4 linked regions of the Homo sapiens genome follow. The protein of the gene in region 4 interacts with the protein of the main gene of each other region in a pairwise test. Each region holds a gene or a part of one and is shown on either strand. Other genes may lie near its edges. The genes, in order: POU2F1, POGZ, AP1M1 and SP4.

The links.
Region 1: the proteins of SP4 (region 4) and POU2F1 interact in binary tests that used the Homo sapiens proteins (3 or more experiments, as listed by UniProt).
Region 2: the proteins of SP4 (region 4) and POGZ interact in binary tests that used the Homo sapiens proteins (3 or more experiments, as listed by UniProt).
Region 3: the proteins of SP4 (region 4) and AP1M1 interact in binary tests that used the Homo sapiens proteins (3 or more experiments, as listed by UniProt).

What each region holds. Positions count from the first base shown.
Region 1 is NC_000001.11:167,370,261-167,375,247, reverse strand, and holds part of POU2F1 (POU domain, class 2, transcription factor 1), read right to left. Parts: intron 3,332-4,987; coding exon 3,212-3,331; intron 1,141-3,211; coding exon 952-1,140; intron 1-951. UniProt on the Homo sapiens protein: Transcription factor that binds to the octamer motif (5'-ATTTGCAT-3') and activates the promoters of the genes for some small nuclear RNAs (snRNA) and of genes such as those for histone H2B and immunoglobulins.
Region 2 is NC_000001.11:151,452,099-151,457,085, reverse strand, and holds part of POGZ (pogo transposable element with ZNF domain), read left to right. Parts: intron 1-2,183; exon of another isoform or gene 2,184-3,059; intron 3,060-4,987. UniProt on the Homo sapiens protein: Plays a role in mitotic cell cycle progression and is involved in kinetochore assembly and mitotic sister chromatid cohesion.
Region 3 is NC_000019.10:16,220,431-16,225,417, reverse strand, and holds part of AP1M1 (AP-1 complex subunit mu-1), read right to left. Parts: intron 1-4,987. UniProt on the Homo sapiens protein: Subunit of clathrin-associated adaptor protein complex 1 that plays a role in protein sorting in the trans-Golgi network (TGN) and endosomes.
Region 4 is NC_000007.14:21,472,394-21,477,380, forward strand, and holds part of SP4 (transcription factor Sp4), read left to right. Parts: intron 1-4,685; coding exon 4,686-4,914; intron 4,915-4,987. UniProt on the Homo sapiens protein: Binds to GT and GC boxes promoters elements. Probable transcriptional activator.

The sequences.
Region 1 (4,987 bases), on a different chromosome or scaffold from region 4:
TTTAAATGGTTAGTCAAACTCTTGCTACAAGTTAAGTCCATTTCTGAGTCTTTTCTGAGACGGATAAAGACAGCTGTCTAACAATTAGACTCATAATAACTCTTCATATATTTTACTGATATATCTACTTATACCTTTTTCCTCTTCTTGAGATTAAAGATTTTATTTATTTTCCTCCTTGGTACTATTGTGTATGCTTCTTAATTTTTTTTTTTTTTAGTGGCGCGATCTCGGCTCACTGCAAGCTCCACCTCCTGGGTTCACGCTATTCTCCTGCCTCAACCTCCCGCGTAGCTGGGATTACAGGCACCTGCCACCACACCTGGCTAATTTTTTGTATTTTTAGTAGAGATGGGGTTTCACCGTGTTAGCCAGTATGGTCTCGAACTCCTGACCTAGTGATCCGCCCGCCTCGGCCTCCCAAAGTGCTGGGATTACAGGCGTGAGCCACCGCGCCTGGCGCTTCTTAAATAAATTTTTATTATCTCTAGATACTTTGCCCTAAAATGTGAAAATTGAAACCAAACAACATTCTAATGCAATAATGTTAATCACTCCATAGCAGAGATGACTCACTGTCTCACACATGGGTGGCAACATTCACCGCAGAGCACATGAAAAAAAATCCATGTCTGCTGTAATTAGCTAATTAAAATAAATACAGTAATCCCCTGCTTCAAAAATATGCCAGCTAATTATTCAAGAATTGTCACTTAATATAAAGTCAGTTATTCAAATAATCAGCTATATGTTTACAATATCAACTACAATAAGCAAACAAACATTATTTCTAATTCAGTGGTAAGGAAGGGTACCGCTTACCTCACTGATCTAGAGCTCCTCAGGCAGTTAAGGCCCCACACTAACAATCAAAAAGTTAATCTAACATTAAATAAAACCTGCCACTTTATTCCTCACTTGCTGCCCCAGCTATTGGAGTTCCTCACTCACCTGTGCGATCTGTATGGGCTGAGACAGGGGGATCTGCGTCATGGGCGTGGCAGCAGAGGCGGAGATGGTGGCTCCAGCAGCACTGTGCTGCTGGCTGGCGGAGTGCTGCTGCACTGCAGCAGCCAGCAGCTGTGCCTGTGCCTGTGCCTGCTGGAGTAGTAACTGTTGCTGGGCAGGCGTCAAAGTAAGCTAAACAAAACCAGAACACATTATGGGAAAGTGTTGAAGGAGAAAGTCTCCTAATGCAAGCCAACTGCTTTAAAATAGGTAACTCAAATGATATCAGTCCCCAGCTACCCAACTTCACTTGCTTAGCAGACAGCTAAAATGTTCATCAGTGATCAAACTACCATTACTAGCAGAACATTTAAATTAAAATGGTGGTCCCCACTATGGACTTAATCATTCAAGCTTGTCCAGGGCCCTAGGGTTTGGGCAAAAAAGTAATTAACTAGTAAGCAAGAAAAAAAAAAAAGAATCACCACTGACAAGATATGAAAATACATTTACACACAACCAAACAGCAAGTGATTAGTCAGATGAATGAGGAACAAGGATGCTGGATATAACCAAGGAAAGAACTGATAAGGCCCAGCTGCTTCCCATTAGCATGAATCCCTGCCATATTCCATCATTTCCATTAAGTCCAAAGATATGACTAAAGAATATGAGCTCCATTTGTTTCTTTTCCAAGTCTCCCTACAGGCCCCTCCCTAACACAATCTTTTCTGTTATTGAAAGCACTGAGTCTCTGCAACTTTACATCTCCTTTCCAACACATTATCTCTATGAAACAGGTGGTGATAGCCGTTCTCTTTACATGCAAATGAACCCTAATGCCCAGGTTTAACAGAAGCTCCAGCCAAAGGAACCTAGAATCCCAACTCCCTCTTACTATTGTAGACACTAGTCACCAAAAACAAGACCCAAATAGTAAAGTAGGAAATGTATTTAGAGCATATTTAAAGTTGTTTTCATAATGCAACTTATTTCAAACACACTTAAAGTAGTAAATGTGTTCTACTTTTCTTTTGGTGACAAGTTCTGATTGATCAAACAAGATGGAACCATAATTTTCTGAAGTATATGTACAGTCACTTAGTGCCACAACCTCCTCTAAAAGAATCAAACACAATTTGTGCATTAGAAACATAAGGCTCAAAACCAAACCATTCAAAAACTCAATACCCTTCAAGGGATATGTGTGTATATAAAGTATAGATATATTTTTAATTTTTACATAATATATATATACATACATCTCTACTCATGGGATTTTGTGAACAATTTTGCAACAGTTCTTAAAACAGTTGTCCACTGACAAAACACACTTAACTGGGAAAAAAAGAAAGAAAGAAAGAAAGAAAACAAAAAACCCTAGGAAATTCTTGGGAGTTAATGTGATGTGAATTGAATAAAAACTATTCCTTACCATTGCCCTAAACCAACCCCCACAAAGATAATTTAATACACAAATTTTCAACATTGGAAAAATATTTTGAATGGTGCCTTAGAGAAAAGACAGCTGAAAACTTAAAAGCTTAATATAGCCAAACAGGCCAATTTATTAACCATAAAAAATAAATGACAGAACGTCTCAGCCTTTTGGCTAAGATCAAGTACAAAAATAAACAATATTTGTTGAATGCTACATGCCAAGCACCGTTCTATAAGTTTTACATGTATTATCTCCAATCTTTACAACAGTAATGTGAGATAGGTATTATTAGTATCTCCATTTAACAGAAGGAAAACAGGTAGAGGGAAATGAAGTAATTAGGCCATACGGTAAGTTGCAGAGCTAGGATATGAAGCCACATGCTTTATTTTAGATCATTACACAGTAACTTAAAGAAAAATGTTTTTCTTTTGCAGGTACTAATCCATTCTTTAACTTCTACCCTGCAGTGATGTCTTAATGCCAAATGGATAACTGCCATTTTCAGTGTAATGATCTCAACCATATGATAATTACTCCATTGCATGATGAAGCAACACCTGAAACAGGGGTTTAATAAGGTTTTTAATTTATCCAGAGCATCCACAATTCTAATAAAAGATATCCTGAAAACTTACGACAAAGATAATTCCTTTTTCAGAGCAACTTACTACCTACAGTGTAGGAAGTTCCTTAAAGACACAATAGTGCCAGGCATAGCCATGTTACTACCAGCTATGGTGAACAATTCTAATCAGCTATTGGCCAATGGCAGTTCTGACACAGAAAAAGTTTGTTATAATTCTCTCAGTGAACACTTACCCCAGTTATCTGTCCTCCAGCTAGCATAAGCTGGGTCTGGGGAATGGCTGCCTGCACTGAAGGCTGCTGGGAAGGCTGGCTTGGCTGCTGCGAATCCCCCGATTCTTCATTAGATTTAGACTGAGGTGGGGTGGGTAGGAAATAAAAGATTGCAAATGGTTGATTAAAAGAAATGTACTTAAAACCCCATCTTTTAGGAATCATTTAAAACATGAGCTTATTCAGTCATGAGTTCTGGTTTACCTCCTTTCTTTTATTTGTATTTTCCTAGTTTCACATACCAAGTTTTTAAACTTGTTAATTCTAATGCCAGCAAAGCTGCTATTACAATTTTTAAAAATAAAGTCATCCCCCACAAATTTATAGATTTTTTTCATAGCCCCCAATTCCTCAACTCTAGAAATAGGGGGTAAAGGGAAGAATATATTTTCAATTCACCTCTACATTAGACCTTCCAAACCAATATTTTAACATACACCTGGTGGTCAGTCTGAAACTTCTCCATATACCATCTCAGAGAATGATCACTTGATCCACAGAACTTTCCACCTAATATTTTACAGAACGGTAAATCTAGCAACTCCCATCAACTAACACACAAGCTCAGAGAGAAAATGCTGCAGTCAAGAGAGAGGGGCACGAAGAGAAAATTTTACGGTAATTAAAACTGGTTATGCAAAGCATTAAAATTCTGCATAGATTTGCATATTTCTCACCACCTGTTTTGGGGACTGCAGCAAGGCTAATTAACATAAATGCTCTGATTAATTCTGCCAGTCATTGAGAGATAATTACAGTGCAGGACTGTAAACATTCTGCACTGGAGATACAGCCTGTTTGCCAACATCTCTCTAAGGGATGAAAGTTTACCATGGCAACCAAGGCAATTTTCCGCCTCCTCTCCCTCAGAAAGTAAGGTCACATTATCTCTTTTTCTTTTCTCTCCTTGTTCCTACGTGTTACTAGGTCCATATTCAACTGGGTTTCATGAAATGCTCAACCCAAGGTCTTTAGTCATTAGCAACACTGAAATCAATCTTCCATAATACTGTCTTTCCCTCTTGACTGCTAGTTACCTAAACACTATAATGAAAGGAACCAGCAGGTTGATAGAAATATTAAGAGGGCAATGTCTAACACTTGAACTTTGCATGTTGTGCCATATGGTTCAAAGAAGGAAAGTGGCCAGATTTAAGTTTTAAGATTTTGATTGTCTATCCACCAACATCTACAAACAGGTTTAATTACAATTATTAGAAGCCTAACATTTTAGGATGGAGAGGAACCCTGGCAATCTTATAAATGTCCCCACTTAAGTACAGATGAGAAAAACTGAACCCAAGGAGGTTATGTGACTTGCCAAAGGTCACACAGCTAGTCAGTGGCAGAATGAGAATGCAAACCTAAGACCCTTGTGTCTCAGTCCAGTGTTCTTTCCTCTTCCCTATAAGGTCTCCCTAAGACATCAAAAATGATAAATAACAAGTCTTTTGGAAACAAACTGGCATTTAAGAGAACTTTCAGGCTGTGTGTTTAGGTATGTGTTATAGCAGTATAACTTAGAAACATTTTTACTGAACTTACACATACAACTTTGAAAGTAGACTTTTCCTGTCCATTTTTGGTTCATGCACAGTAGCATAATATAAAACTGATTTTCATTAATGGTAATAATTATCATTATTTGAATCTTCACGAGATTCACTAATTTTGAAAAGGTAATACTTCTAAGCATTTCCTATTATAAAATATATGCTCACTACAGAAAAATATAAG
Region 2 (4,987 bases), on a different chromosome or scaffold from region 4:
TACCCTTTCAGGGTAGCCTCAAGGTCATAACTATTTTCAAAATAATAGTAAGATGCTATTTATTGTTTTCACTGATACACTGATGGTTCAAAAGCAAGGCTGGGTAAAACTACTGGCGGTACCTTAGCACAAAGCAAGTCAGGGGCACCAAACTACTTGAGAATGCCCTTGAAGCAGTAAAATTTATTATTCTATTTTTATTTTTTTGAGGCGGAGTTTTGCTCTGTCGCCCAGGGTGGAGTGCAGTGGCACTATCTCGGCTCACTGCAATCTCTTCCTCCCTGGTTGTATTTTTAGTAGAGACAGTGTTTCGCCATGTTGGCCAGGCTGGTCTCGAACTCCGGACCTCAGGCGATCCACCTGCCTCGGCGTCCCAAAGTGCTGGGATTACAGGCATGAGCCACCGTGCCCGGCCTATTATTATTAAGTCTTAGCTTTTGACTACATGTCTTTTTAATTTTTAAGAATTTGTGATTAAATAAACATGGATAAAGCATTTATGCTGCCTAGGGAGGTGTGATTGTTGTCATGAAGGAAAAGCATTTGTGAGATTGGGTTGTGAATGAATGGCTTATTTCATGGAGTAGCATTTTTACTTGAAAGAACGACTAGCAGACTATGGTTTTTCACACTTAGTATTTGGCAGATATTTCTTGAAAATGAAGTGAGCTTGTCACTTTTAGGAAAACAACTGACAGTATTTATTACCAGTGATAAAATTTGGGTGAAAATTAGAATTTTTAAAAAGTTGACAGCTGGAGTTTGACAGCTTCCTAGTACTTAAAAGACTTTCCTTATGATATCAGTGGTTAAGGACTGCAATATTTTAAAATGTTGTTTAATGAAATATGTTATTTGGAAGATGGGCATAACTCAGTAAATCTAGGCTTTGCAAATGACCAATGCATGATGTTGCAAAATCAAGCAAAGGCAAAAGATCCTTTGAAAATTCCAGACATAGCAATGGATTTTAACAGTAAAAAAGTGGATTGATGTGGTTTCAGATTCCAAAATGTTAACTGTCCTTTAAGAAACTACTATTTGGCCTAGCGTGGTGGCTCACTCCTGTAATCCCAGCACTTTGGGAGGCCAAGGTGGAAGGATTGTGTGAGCCCAGGAGTTGGAGTTGAGCCTGGTCAGCATAGTGAGACCCTGTCTCTATTTATTAAAAAAAAAAAAAAAAAAAAAAAAGAAAGAAACTACCGTTTGTTGAGTTTTAGTATTTACCAAACACAGTTATCTGAAAAGGTTATTAAAATACTTCTCCCTTTTCCGACTAGATTTTCATTATATACTTAACCAAAGCTACATATAGCAACAGACTGAATGCAGAAGTAACTGTGAGAATCCAACCATCTTTTATCAAGTTAGACATAAAAGAGATTTGCAAAATGCAAAACAACGTTACTTTTCTCACTTTTTGGAGGGAAAGTATTTTTTGTTGAAATGTTATTTATGTTAACTTATAATGGGCTTGTCTTAAAATACATTGATAAATACTACATTTTAAAAATTTGTGGTAAATGTGGAAAGATAAAATTCACATAAACAAAAGATCTTTGGCGTCTTCAATAATTTTAAGAGTCAAAAAAATGAGAATCATTCAGTCAGTCCTATGTTTCTGCTCTTTACATCATTCAAATCTAACTCCCTTGGGGAACTTGGGAGAATTTATAAATAGTTGAAGTTGATGGAAGAGGCAGTGACCTGGGGAAGAATTCTAAAGCAAAAAAAGCTTGCTTTGAATCCTAACTGGGATATTTACTAACTGTAACCTTGAGGAAGTTACTTCGTCTCTCTAAACCACTGTTTTGACCTTATCTGTAAAATAAAAACTTTAGAGCTGGTTGATTACAAATCCTAGAGCTGGTTAATGCCTTTGCCATAATATCAATATGGTAACATTTTGATAGATTCTTTGGTATTCTTGTTTGTGATATTAAGCCATATTCACAAAAACTTGTCTTTTTTTTTTTTTTGAGATGGAGTCTCGCTCTATTGCCCAGGCTGGAGCGTAATGGCGCAATCTCGGCTCACTGCACCCTCCGCCTCCTGGGTTCAAGCGATTCTCCTCCTTCAGCTTCCTCAGTAGCTGGGATTACAGGCACGCGCCACCACACCTGGGTAATTTTTGTATTTTTCTAGAGATGGGGTTTCACCATATTGATCAGGCTGGTCTCAAACTCCTGACCTCTTGATCGACCCGCCTTGGCCTCCCAAAGTGCTGGGATTACAGGCGTGAGCCACCACGCCCAACTGAAAAACGTATTTTTATATGTAACCAAGGGGAGGAGAGCAGAAAAGAGACACTAACCTATTGCTAGGTGTTAGCAGAGTTAAAAGAAATTGAAAGCATAGAAATGGAATTTAGGCAACACACAGCTGTCATTGAAGAAAAGTTTTCCATCATAGTATAGATATTTTTCTTGGGAAAGGGACTCCTGAATATTGAACCCCTTTAAAGAAGAGAACTTGTTGCTTACTTGTTTTAGTAAAGAGCACAGAACTAAATATTTGGGTGTTTCTTGATACAGGATTGGCTACCAGACAAGAGGAAAGTATTTTGAGTTTGGAAATTTTAGGTTATTAAGACTACTTAAAACCCTTATGATTCTTACATATGAGGTACTATAACAGATGTTGTGAGGGACAAAATGGGCTGTGCAAAAGACTGGATAAATAAAAGCTTATTACATGTTTAACTATAGTTTTATACACAGATTAAGTATTCAGCCCTATAGGTTTTCTGGTATTAGTCCTTTTTAGAGCCAAAAATTGAGGTAACTTGAAAACATAATTACCAGTTATGTTGAGGATTATCATTGTTTATTTTTCACCCTGGAACAAGAAAGTGGTATTCTTAAAATGTTTGTTTTCTGTAAAATATTTTTCCTGTTCCAAATGTTCTTTTTATGTTGATTTTTGGGCAGGTATGTACTGGCAGTAAGTTGAAAACGTTAGATACCAAATTCTTCATTTCTGAATTCTTCATTCTTCATTTCTGGACTTTACAGCTATGAAAGAACAAGACAAAGGAATTCAGAGCTTTCAAGAACCAAGTATGTCAGGATAGTTGTGGAAAACAGATCTTTTTCTCATTTTCTTTGAGATGAAGATAGGCAACATTTGCTGCCCATTAAATACCTTAAAAGTATACAGGTGTATCTGCAGGATTCTTTTTGCTGCTTTTAAATAGTATATTGTTTTAAAAGGTCTGTTTTTATCTTGCCTTTACAATTATATAGACTTTTATTGACTAGCTGATCATATAGGGCCTTAGTATAGACTACCATATTCGCCAGCATTTAAGAAATAGTCCCCTTCCCTCCAGGAGAGTATTTATCTGGTACTCCCATATTATGGATTGAAGGATGAGACAAGAGACTGAGTATTGCTAATAGTTCTGTGTGAGCCTGCAGTGTTAAGTAAAACCTATTGAGTGCACAAAAAAATCATGTTACAATTACTACAAAATAGAGAAACCACCTAGGTTACCAAGATGTCAAATAATGGATTAATGGAAGAAAGTAATGTACCTCCTTGGTAGCCTACATAATCCACCTTAATTTGTTATTTCTTATTTAACTATTTTGCTATGTCTTAAGAAATGTATATTAAGTGAAAATGGATGCATAAAAATAAAAAAAGAGAAATGTATATATACAAGCTACATGAAAATTGGTCCTGGGAATAAATCAAGAAATTCAACCAACAAGGCTACCAGTTATTTAGTAAATACCAAAGAGATAGGTGGAATGTAGCAGTACAGAATATCACAGCTAAGATATGAGTAGGTAGTTCCACTCCCTCCTACCCCACCTCAGTTTTTATTAAGAAAATTTCACGCATGCGAAAAGGGAGAAAGAGGCTGGGCGCAGTGGCTCACACCTGTAACCGAAGCACTTTGGGAGGCCAAGATGGGCGGATCACAAGGTCAGGAGTTCAAGACCAGCCTGACCAACATGGTGAAACCTGTCTCTACTAAAAATACAAAAATTAGCTGGGCGTTGTGGCGCATGCATGTAATCCCAGCTACTCAGGAGGCTGAGGCAGGAAAATCACTTGAACCTGGGAGGTGGAGGTTGCAGTGAGCCAAGATCACTCCAGCCTGGGCAACTGAGCGAGACTCCATCACAAAAAGAAGAAAAAAGAAAAGGGTGAAAGAATTCTACAAGGAACACTTAAACTATCCACCACCTAGACAGAGTGACTTTTTTTTTTTAAGACAGAGTCTCGCTCTGTTGCCTAGACTAGAGTGCAGTGGCACAATCTTGGCTCACTGCAACCTCTGCCTCCCGAATTCAAGCGATTATCCTGCCTCAGCCTTCCGAGTAGCTGGGACTGCAGGCACCAGCCACCACGCATGGCTAATTTTTGTATTTTTAGTAGAGACGGGGTTTCACTGTGTTGGCCAGGCTGGTCTCGAACTCCTGTCCTTGTGATCCGCCTGCATTGGCCTCCCAAAGTGCTGGGATTACAGGCGTGAGCCACTGCGCCTGGTGACAGGATGATTTTTAATGTTTTGGCCCATGCCAAATATTTTTTGAAAGTTGGCATACTAGTATCTATAAGAAAATATCAAAATAGCCCACCTGTAGTGACAACTACTTGGGAGGCTGAGGCAGGAGGATCACCTGAGCCCAGGAGGTTGAGGCTGCAATAAGCCGTGATTGTGCCACTGCACTCCAGCCTGGGGGATAGAATGACACCCTGTCTCAAAAAAAAAAGCCAAATATCTATGTATTTGCTTAACCCCTTGAAAGTCACTTTCAAGATATTTCTATTAAATATTTTGTGCATTTCCTAGGAATAAATACATTCTCCTACATGAATATAATATGATTATCCTTTCTGTTTAAAAATTTTTTAGAGGGATCGGTTCTGTTTCCCAGATTGGTCTTGAACTCCTGACCTTAAGCAATCCTACCACCTTGGCCTGCCACCATGCCCGGCCAACATTGACTTTTTTTTTTTTTTTTTTTTTTTT
Region 3 (4,987 bases), on a different chromosome or scaffold from region 4:
TGGGGCTGCAGCCCTGGCCACCACTGCACACTGCTATGCTGCACGAGGCCATGCTCACACCAGCAAGTGGGCCAAAGGCCACCGACTTGGATACCTGGGCCCAGATGCTGGCTCCAGCCAGGCTAACATGTGCAGGGCCTGCATTTCCTGTCTGCAGAGTGGCAGGAGAGTCTGTGCAGTCTTATGCATGATGTCCAAAAAGCACTGGGTAGACAAACAAAAGCCCCTCACCAGCTTGCCGCCTCTGAGGGAATTGGGAAAACTGAGGTGCCAAGCAAATGACAGCCCTGGGAGGGGCAGGGAACCGGACATGGCCCCAAGGGCTCCGGTTCTGTCACCTTCCCCAGCCTCACCTCCTCGTGCTGTCCTGTCCTCATCTCGCAAGCGGCTCCCTGATCCCATGGTGCACAACAGCTTCCCTGCGTCTGCCTGCTTGTCTCTCTCTCTCTCTCCCTGCTGGGGGAAGCCACGTGGGGCTGCGCGCTGCCGTGTCCAGCACCAGAAACAGCGTGTGTGGCAGGAGGTGCTCAGTGGGCAAGCGGAGGCTCAGGAGCTCGGGACCCTCACTGGCCGGGGCTCCAGGAGCCCGAGCATTGGGATTTTGCCTGCCTCTTTCTCGGAGGGCCCTCCACTCCACTGTGACGGCCCCTAATTCCCCTTGGGTGCTGCCTCCCCCTCAGGGAGTTGGGACTGGCCCTGGCAGCCAGCTGTAACTGAACACATGAGGTCGTGAATGCCGCGAGAGCAGGCCCAGGGAGTGGAGCTGAAAAGCTGCCCAGCCCACGAGGCTGATCTCGGCCCTGCGGGCAGCAATCAGAACCTTCTCAGCTGAGGTGTGACCAGCCACGCAGAGCCGGTGCCCTTCCCAGGGCGGGTGCTGAAGGGATGCTTGCTCAGGGCCCGGCTGTGTAAGTACCAGGCTGCACTCAGATGATCGCATCTGGAGGCAAATGTTGACCCAGCCACCAGCTCTGCAAGCCACTTAGGAAGGTGGCATCCTGACAGCTGCCCTTGTGCTGACCTGTTTGGAGGAGTGGGATCCTTCCGGGCGGAGCCACATGCAGCAGCGCACTGTGGCGGGGACCCCCGCAGCCCTAGCGCTTTCCTGCTCGACTCTCTCTAAGCTGCCCCCTGGGACTTGCCTTTGCACCCCACAGCACCCAGATGGACCCTGTTTTCGGCTCAATAAACAATCAGACAAGAGTCCCCAGGGGAGAGGGGAATGTGGTTAGCGAGGCCACTGTCCCGTCCCGGAAAGTAAGAAAGCGAAGAGGTCTGCACGGAGTGCGCGAGACAGTCTTTCTGGGCAGCACTCTCCTTGGCAATTCCATGTCTGCAGCCTCAGTCCTCCAGAAATCCTGGCCCAGGTCACGGAGACACCCAAGTGCACACGTCTGGGGCTGAGCAAGCGTGCTCAATGCTGCACTGCCAGTGGCCGTCAGAAACGGGACCTGAGTGACCTGCATGACTGGATTGGCTGAGCCCATACAGTCCACCCACACCGCAGGGATGAGGCCAGCGTGAACACAAAAGAAAGCAAGCGGCTGGTGAGGCAGGTCGGCTGGCGCCCCTTCCCCTGCCACTGACTACAGCTCTGAAACCTGGGCAGGAGGCTTGGCAGCTGCCGGAAGACTGAAGACAGCAGCAGGTGGACCAGGGAAGAGCCACGAATGCAGAGTGTTCCCACCGCCCCCCACGAGAAAGTGCAGCAGCAATCTGGAAGCAGAAGTGTGCACCACAGAGCACACGAGAGCTCAGCAGAGCCTCCAGGCCTGGCTCTGGGGCCAGAAGAGGAACTCCTGACTCTCCTGGAAAACACAGAAGCCCCCCATCTCCCCTGTTCCTCATGCCCCAGGCCCTGTGGTGCCAGCTACTGTTCCGAGGGGGTGGGGCAACCGTTGTCCTTTTCTCTCTCTGTCCTCTCTCCATGTGGGCTGGGAAGTGGGCCCAATGGCAGACGTGTACAACAGTAAACCGCAAGGAATCAGAAAAGTACCAGGTAGACAGCACAGAGCCAGAAGCTCAGGAAAGTCACCCCATGAAGTGGTTTATGTCTCCAGAACTCTCTAGAATCGAGCATCTGTGAATCCTGTGCATATACCATAGTTTGACTTACGAAAGAGTTTGAGAACTGAACTAACCACTCGGGTCCCAGAATGACCACTGGGCAGTGCACGCCCAGGAGATCTGACCAGGAAATGGCACGGGGGCTTTAAAAACTGACGTGATGCTCATGGCCTACAGGTTGGGGATTGGAACTTGTGGCCTGAAAGTAAGATTGGCTGTTGGCTAAAACAAAAATATCAATATTTCCCATATAGCTTAAATAAGACCTAGAGTATCACCACATAATGCTCAAAAAGTCCAGGATGCAATCCAAAATTACTCAGCATACAAACAACCACGAAAATGTCAACTTGCCTGGAAAACCCAATCAACCACTGTCAACACTTCACAGATGTTGGGATTATCTGATGAAGACTTTAAACAGCTATTTTTAAAATTGCAAATGCTTGCAACAAATGTTAAAATAGAAAGTCTCAGCAAAGAAACAGATGATAAAGAAGAATCAACCAGGAGTTCGAGACTAGCCTGGGCAACACAGCAAGTCCTGGTCTCTACAAAATAAAAAATAAAAAAAAATTAGCCAGGCATGGTGGTGCGTGCCTGTGGTCTCAGCTACTCAGCACACTCAGATGGGAAGATCACTTGAACACACGAGGTTGAGGCTGCAGTGAGCTATAACTGCACCACTATACTCCAGCCTGGGCAACAGAGTAAGACCCTGTCTCAAAACAAAAACAAAAACAAAAACAAACAAAAAGAGAAGAATCAAATGGAAAATTTTTAAAAATATAGTAACTGAAATAAACAACTTGCTCAATGGACTTAATAGCAGAATGGAGGCCAGGTACAGTGGCTCATGCCTGTAATCCCAGCACTTTGGGAGGCTGAGGTGGGAAGATCACTTGCCCCAGGAGTTCTAGATCAGCCAGGGCAACACAGAGAGACCCTCATCTCTACAAAAATTTTTTTTTAAAAATTAGCCAGGCTTGGTGGTGCACACCTGTAGTCCCAGCTACTCAGGAGGCTGAAGCAGAAGGATCGCTTGAGCCCAGGAGGTTGGGGCTACAGTGAGCCATGCTTGCTCCATGGCTCTCCAGCCTGGATGACAGAGTGGGAACCTATCTCAAAAAAAAAAAAAATAATAATAATAATAGTAATAATAATAATAACAGAATGGAGATAAACAGGAAAGGGCCAAAGGACCTGTGAACTTAAAGGCAGTTCAATGTAAATTATCCAATCTAACAGAGAGAAGAAAAGATAGAATAAAATAAGCAGCCTCAGGGACACATGATATAATAACCAAAGGTCTTTCATGTCACTGGAGTCCTGAAGGAAGAGTAAAATGACAAAAACATATCTGAGGGCTGGGTGCGGTGGCTCATGCCTGTAATCCCAGCACTTTGGGAGGCTGAGGCAGGTGGATCACCTGAGGTTGGGAGCTTGAGACCAGCCTGATCGACATGGAGAAACCCTGTCTCTACTAAAAATACAAAATTAGCCAAGTGTGGTGGTGAATGCCTGTAATCCCAGCTACTCGGGAGGCTGAGACAGGAGAATTGCTTTGTAGAAAGTAAAAAAGTTCCTCTTCAAAGTTTCCCTTCTCACTAAAGAATAAATCATAAGTGTTAGAAATAATGTACATTCTATGTCCTTGTACTTTAACCGAAATATTTGTTTTAGACATAAAGGATGTTAGATATAAGGGAATGAGTACATTCTGTGTCCTTGTACTTTAACCAAGATATTTGTTTTTAGATGTAAGGGATGTTAGATATAAGGGAATGAGTCAACTTCCTCTTTTTCCTTTGTTCTCCCTTGCCTTTATCTATTTAGGAAAGTTTTAAGTTATTAGCCAGTCAGGTTTAGCTTAGATTGTGAGGTCTGGCTCCAGCCAATGGAGATAGGACACAGCAGCAGGGACAAGCTGCATAAGGGATAAAAACGGCTTTCCTCCTTTGTTCGGGTGTGCTCTCGCCATTGTTCCATCTGCGAGGAGCACCCTTTCTGCAGAAAGTAAATTTGCCTTGCTGAGAAAACTTTTTGTTTGAATGCTGATTTTTCCTTGTGGTACCGAGGAACAAGCATTCTGTTTCTGAATAAACATTTTACTTATAACAGCTTGAACCTGGGAGGCAGAGGTTGCAGTGAGCCAAGATTGTGCCATTGCACTCCAGACTGGGCAACAAGAATGAAACTCTGTCTCAAAAAACAAAACAAAACAAAAAAACAAAAAACCATATTTTAGGAAACAATGATTGATAACTTCCCAATTTGATGAAAGACATAAACTTACAGATCCAAGAAGCTGAACAAATCCCAAACAGTAGAAACACAAAGATGTGCACACCTCATCTAACTGCTGAAACTAAAGGCAAAGAAAAATCTGGAAAGCAGCCAGAGGACAATAATACATCACCTATAGGGGAATAAAGATTTGGGGGACTGTGGATTTCTCACCAGAAATGATGGATGCCAGAAGGAAGTGGTATAACATATTAAAGTGCTAAACAAAAACCGTCAATTCAGAAGTCCATATCCAGTGAAAATAGCCTTTAGGGATAAAGGTAAAATATAGAGACATTCTTAAAGGAAAGCCAAGGGAATGTGTAGCCAGTAGACCTCCTCTACAAGAATGGCTTTTAAAAAAACCTTTTTAGGGCTGGGCGCAGTGGCTCATGCCTGTAATCCCAGCATTTTGGGAGGCCGGGGTGAGCAGATCACTTGAGGTCAGGAATTTGTGACCAGCCCAGCCAACAAGGTGAAATCCTGTCTCTACCAAAAATACAAAAATTACCCAGGTGTGGTGGTACATGCCTGTAATCTCAACTACATGGGAGGCTGAGGCTGGAGAATCGCTTGAACCTGGGAGGCAGAGGTTGCGGTGAGCTGTAATCGCGCCACTGCACTCCAGCCTGGG
Region 4 (4,987 bases):
CTCACCTCAGCACCTCATTCTCATGAGTAGCCAGGACTACAGGCACATGCCACCATGCCTGGCTAATTTTTTAATTTTTTTAAGAGATGGCATCTCACTGCGTTGCCTAGGTTGGTCTTGAACTCCTGGGCTCAAGCAGTCCTCCTGCCTCGGCCTCCCAAAGTGCGGGGATTACAGGTGTGAGCCACTGCACCTGGCTGATAAATCTTTTCAGAAAGTGACATAAATTTAGATTTAAGTGCTGATTTTAAAAAATTGCTAAGGCCATGCATGGTGGTGCATGCCTGTAATCTCAGCTACTTGGGAGACCAAGGCAGGAGAATTGCTTGAGCCCTGGAGTTCAAGACTGGTCTGAACAGCAGAGTGAGACCCCCATCTCTTAAAAAAAAAGAAAAAAAAAAGCAACCAAACAAAAAGGAGCTAACAGAGAAGAAGGGGTTTCTGAAATGTAGGAAGTTAGCTCACAGAGTCAAAATTGAATAAGGATGGAGTGGCGAGTGGTGTCAAATGCAGCAGAGCAGTCCTGTAATGGTCACTGAAAAAATGCACAATAGATTTGGTCATTAGAAGGAAGACTGTGAACCAGGAGCTGAGTAAGTCCTTGTGGTAGAGTGCTTTGAATGCCAGACTTTGGTCGGTGGAAGAATGATTAAATGTTATTGAGCACGAAAGTGAGATGATCAGAACACTACTTTTTTATTTTTCTGGCAGCAGTGTGAAGGATGAGAAAGGAGGGAAAGCTCAATTTAGGTTGGTAGAGGCACAGATTGAACAAGGGCTTGGATCAAGATGATAATCTTGCTTGGAAACAGGTTAGCGTAAGAGCTGTTAGGCAGTAGTGTCTTCAAAATTTGGTCATCACTGGATGTAATGAGTAAAGAAGTAGCCTAAAAGATGACATTTTAAGGTTTTCAGTGTGGATAACAAGGAGAATAGGGGTAGCATTTACTGAAACAGGGACATTAGCAGAAGCAAGACTGGAAGATGAAATCATTTTTTATTTTTAAACTTTGATTTATTAAGCATATGCTATTGAGTGGCACTGTTATTGAGTTATTAGGCACTGTTACGGTACTAGAGATACAGCAGTGAACATAATAGGCAAGATCCCTACTTTCATGGCACTTTACCTTCAGAAGTGAGGTGAAGACCAAATTATAAAAGGACAAAGTAATTTAAGACAAATAAGACAAAACTAGGTGATGATACAGTGATATATTGAGGGGAGCTTTTAGATGGGATGGTCAGGAATGGCATTTCTAAAGAGGAGAGATTTGAACTCAGACCAGAATATTACAAAGGAATCAACTATGCAAAGATCTGGGTGCAAAGGCATCCCCACTTAGACTGGAGAGTATATGCAAAGTCCCTAAGAAGGAAATGAGCTTGATTTATTTGAGGGCCAGAAGAGAGGCCAGTATATCAGGTGCAGAGTGAGCAAGGGAGAGACTAATAGAGATGAGCTCTGAGAAGTCAATAGAATTAAACTTAAGTGGGGCCTCGGAGGTCTTGCTCTGGAGTTTGGTGGCTTACTGATGGCAGTGGAAATAAAGCAGTATGTTGAACTTAGCTGTCTGTGAAACATCTAGATGAAGTCAATTAACGGGCTTCAATATACAAACTCAAATATAATTTGCCTCTGTTATTCATTGAAATAACTTTCCAAGTTGTTTAGGCATTGAACAAAGAAATGCTCACAATATGGAGGCTTGAGGAGTGTGTCAAGGACATGGTCAGGGGACCAGAGGGATCAGGAATCTCTAGCAGTTCTTCCCCACCCCTCACCCCCAGACTTAGCTTTGACTTGAAACTCATCTAGCAGTTCTTTACCAAAATAAAGGTCATCTTAAATATTATTGCGACCTTTAAAGTAATGACTGTTATATAAATGTTATGAGAAAAGTAGTCAGAGAATCACGGCCAAAAATACCTGTGTCTTCAGGGGATGTAAAGGGTACTTACCAACTTAAAATACCTGCAGCTCCATAGGGACCATGCTGTAGATTTTGTATAGTGCTTGTTCAGACAGTACTCTCATTTCTAGAAATGCATTTTTTGCAGTAAACAAAGTGTGTGTATCACTGTGCTTCTTGGTACACAAGTAGTTTGAATAGATTTTGTAGCCAAGGTCATCCTTAAGCCATCTAGTTTTACTGAATACATGTTCAAAAACACTGAAACAAAATAATTATACCTTTTGTTTATGTATTGCTTTATAATTTATATAGCCTTTACCCCTGGAAAATCAACTTGATCCTCAGGAACAGCTCTTTAAAGTAGATAGGGAGCAGAAATTTTATGGAAGTCAGTGTTACTATTTTAGAGTTGAGGAAACTGAGGATCTCTGAGTGCACAGTCATAAATTTACAACTCTCACTTCACTTGCATTGCTTTACTTACCACACCATGCTAATTCAAAGGTGTACAAAAATGTAAATTTTAGTAGAGGGTTTGTATCCTTACTAAAACAGTGACAAAATAAATTTTTTAATGTGCATGTTAGTTATGGGTGCTACCAGAAGGATTAACGGTGCTGTGGATACGCAGAGGAGAGTGAGATTGACTTTGGCTGGGAGAGTCAGAGGTTTAATTTTGTTTAGAAAATGTGTACTGTTTTCTTACTTGGTACTTTTTATTGCCTCTTCTTGGTTGCCCCATACATTTAAGGTACTACATGTGCAGCTTTGAAATAACCTCCCCCACCCTTTTTTTGTTTTTTGTTTTTTGTTTTTTTTTTTGAGACAGAGTCTCACTCTTGACGCCCAGGCTGGAGTGCAGTGGCACAATTTCGGCTCACTGAAACCTCTGCCTCCCGGGTTCAAGCGATTCTGCTGCCTCAGCTTCCCAAGTAGCTGGGACTACAGGTGTGTGCTACCACACCTGGCTAATTTTTTGTATTTTTAATAGAGATGGGGTTTCACCGTGTTAGCTAGGATGGTCTCCATCTCCTGACCTCGTGTTCCACCTGCCTCAGCCTCCAAAAGTGCTGGGATTACAGGCCTGAGCCACCACGCCTGGCCTGAAAGAAACCCTTTTATTTTGTATGCAGGACCGGTATGTTTGTTTCTGCTAGCATATTTTATTGTTATTTTGAGACAGAGTCTCGCTCTGTCGCCCAGGCTGCACAGTCTCAGCTCACTGCAAGCTCTGCCTCCCAGGTTCATGCCATTCTCCTTCCTAAGCCTCCTGAGTAGCGAGTAGCTGGGACTACAGGCGCCCGCCACCACGCCCGGCTAATTTTTTGTATTTTTAGTAGAGGCTGGGTTTCACCATGTTAGCCAGGATGGTCTCGATCTCCTGACCTTGTGATCTGACATCTCAGCCTCCCAAAGTGACATATTTTATTCTTGTATTGCCACTGAACTCAGCAGAGATGAATTGGTAACAGTAGCTACCATGTAATGAGCAATTCCGTGCCAGCACTCTGGTAGAGGATTTGTAAATTTACTTAATACTTACATCAACTTTCTGAGGTAGAAACATTCTTTCATAAATTGGTATTTTCTTTTCAGTCCATTCACATACTTGTTATTCCCACACCTGATGGAGAGAATGTAGAACTGTGTGAAAGAAAAGATAATTATAAGGCATTGTAGGCCGGGCACGGTGGCTCACACCTGTAATTCCAGCACTTTGGGAGGCCAAAGCAGGTGAATCACCTGAGGTCAGGAGTTTGAGACCAGCCTGGCAAACATGGCAAAACCCTGTCTCTACTAAAAATACAAAAAAAATTAGCTGGGCATGGTGGCACACGCCTGTCATCCCAGCTACTAGGGAGGCTGAAGAAGAAGAATTGCTTGAACCCAGGAGGTGGAGGTTGCAGTGAGCCGAGATCGTGCTACTGCACTCCAGCCTGGGCGACAGAGCAAGACTCCATCTCAAAAAAAAAAAAAAAAAAAAAAAGCATTGTATTTCAGGATAATGTTAAGCCATGCCAATAGATTTTTTTATTGTTGTTTTATTGTGCATTATTTATTATATTTTTCCCAAAGTGAAGAAGCCAAGCTGGTATATATACTAATCTGAGTGATGAAGTCTAAGCTATATAACATGAATGAATAAAGTAATAATATCTTAAATGTCTTTTTATGATTACAGTGACAGTATGTAGTAATCTTGGGTGGTTTTGCATTTCAAAAACCACTTTATGTATACACTAAAAAAAGTCGAATCAATAAAGAGATGTTTATTTAAACTATTTAGGAATGCAAGATGTCCATAAAACTTAATCCTTTGTTTAGTGACTTTTCACTCCTGTATTTTCTTGTTATGATAAGATATGTTGCTTACCGTGGAAATGGTAATAAAGCTTTGTGTTTATATAACATCTTTTAGGATCTCAAAATGCTTTTAGACTATCTCATGTATCCTCATAGTATTTTAGTGAGTAGGTAAGTGGCAAGTATTATCTTCATTTTACAGATGGAGAGAGAAATTAAGCCACAAAGTGAGTTAAATGATGTATGTATATAGTTCCGTTATCTAGATACATAGGCAACCTGAGCCACTAAAGTAAGAATACTATATTTTAGAAGGATTGACATAGTATAAGCCATTAACCCCTTAGTTTTTGTACTTTACACAGATTGTTAGAAAAAATTTATTATGCACATAGATTTTTTTTTTTAATCCTTTCTTTAGGTGTAGAAAACATTACAATACTTCTTTTTTTTCTTCCTTTTTAGGTCAGCAGCAAGGACAAGATGGAGTAAAAGTCCAGCAAGCTACTATAGCTCCTGTAACTGTAGCAGTTGGAGGAATTGCTAATGCCACGATAGGTGCTGTTAGTCCTGACCAACTCACACAAGTGCATTTGCAGCAAGGCCAGCAGACTTCTGATCAAGAGGTACAACCTGGCAAGAGGCTTCGAAGAGTTGCCTGTTCCTGTCCTAATTGTAGGGAAGGAGAAGGAAGGTAAATGCTGTATTTTTCAACTGTGTCTATTTGGAAGGCATAAAACAGCAGTTAAAACCAAGTAATTGGCTGG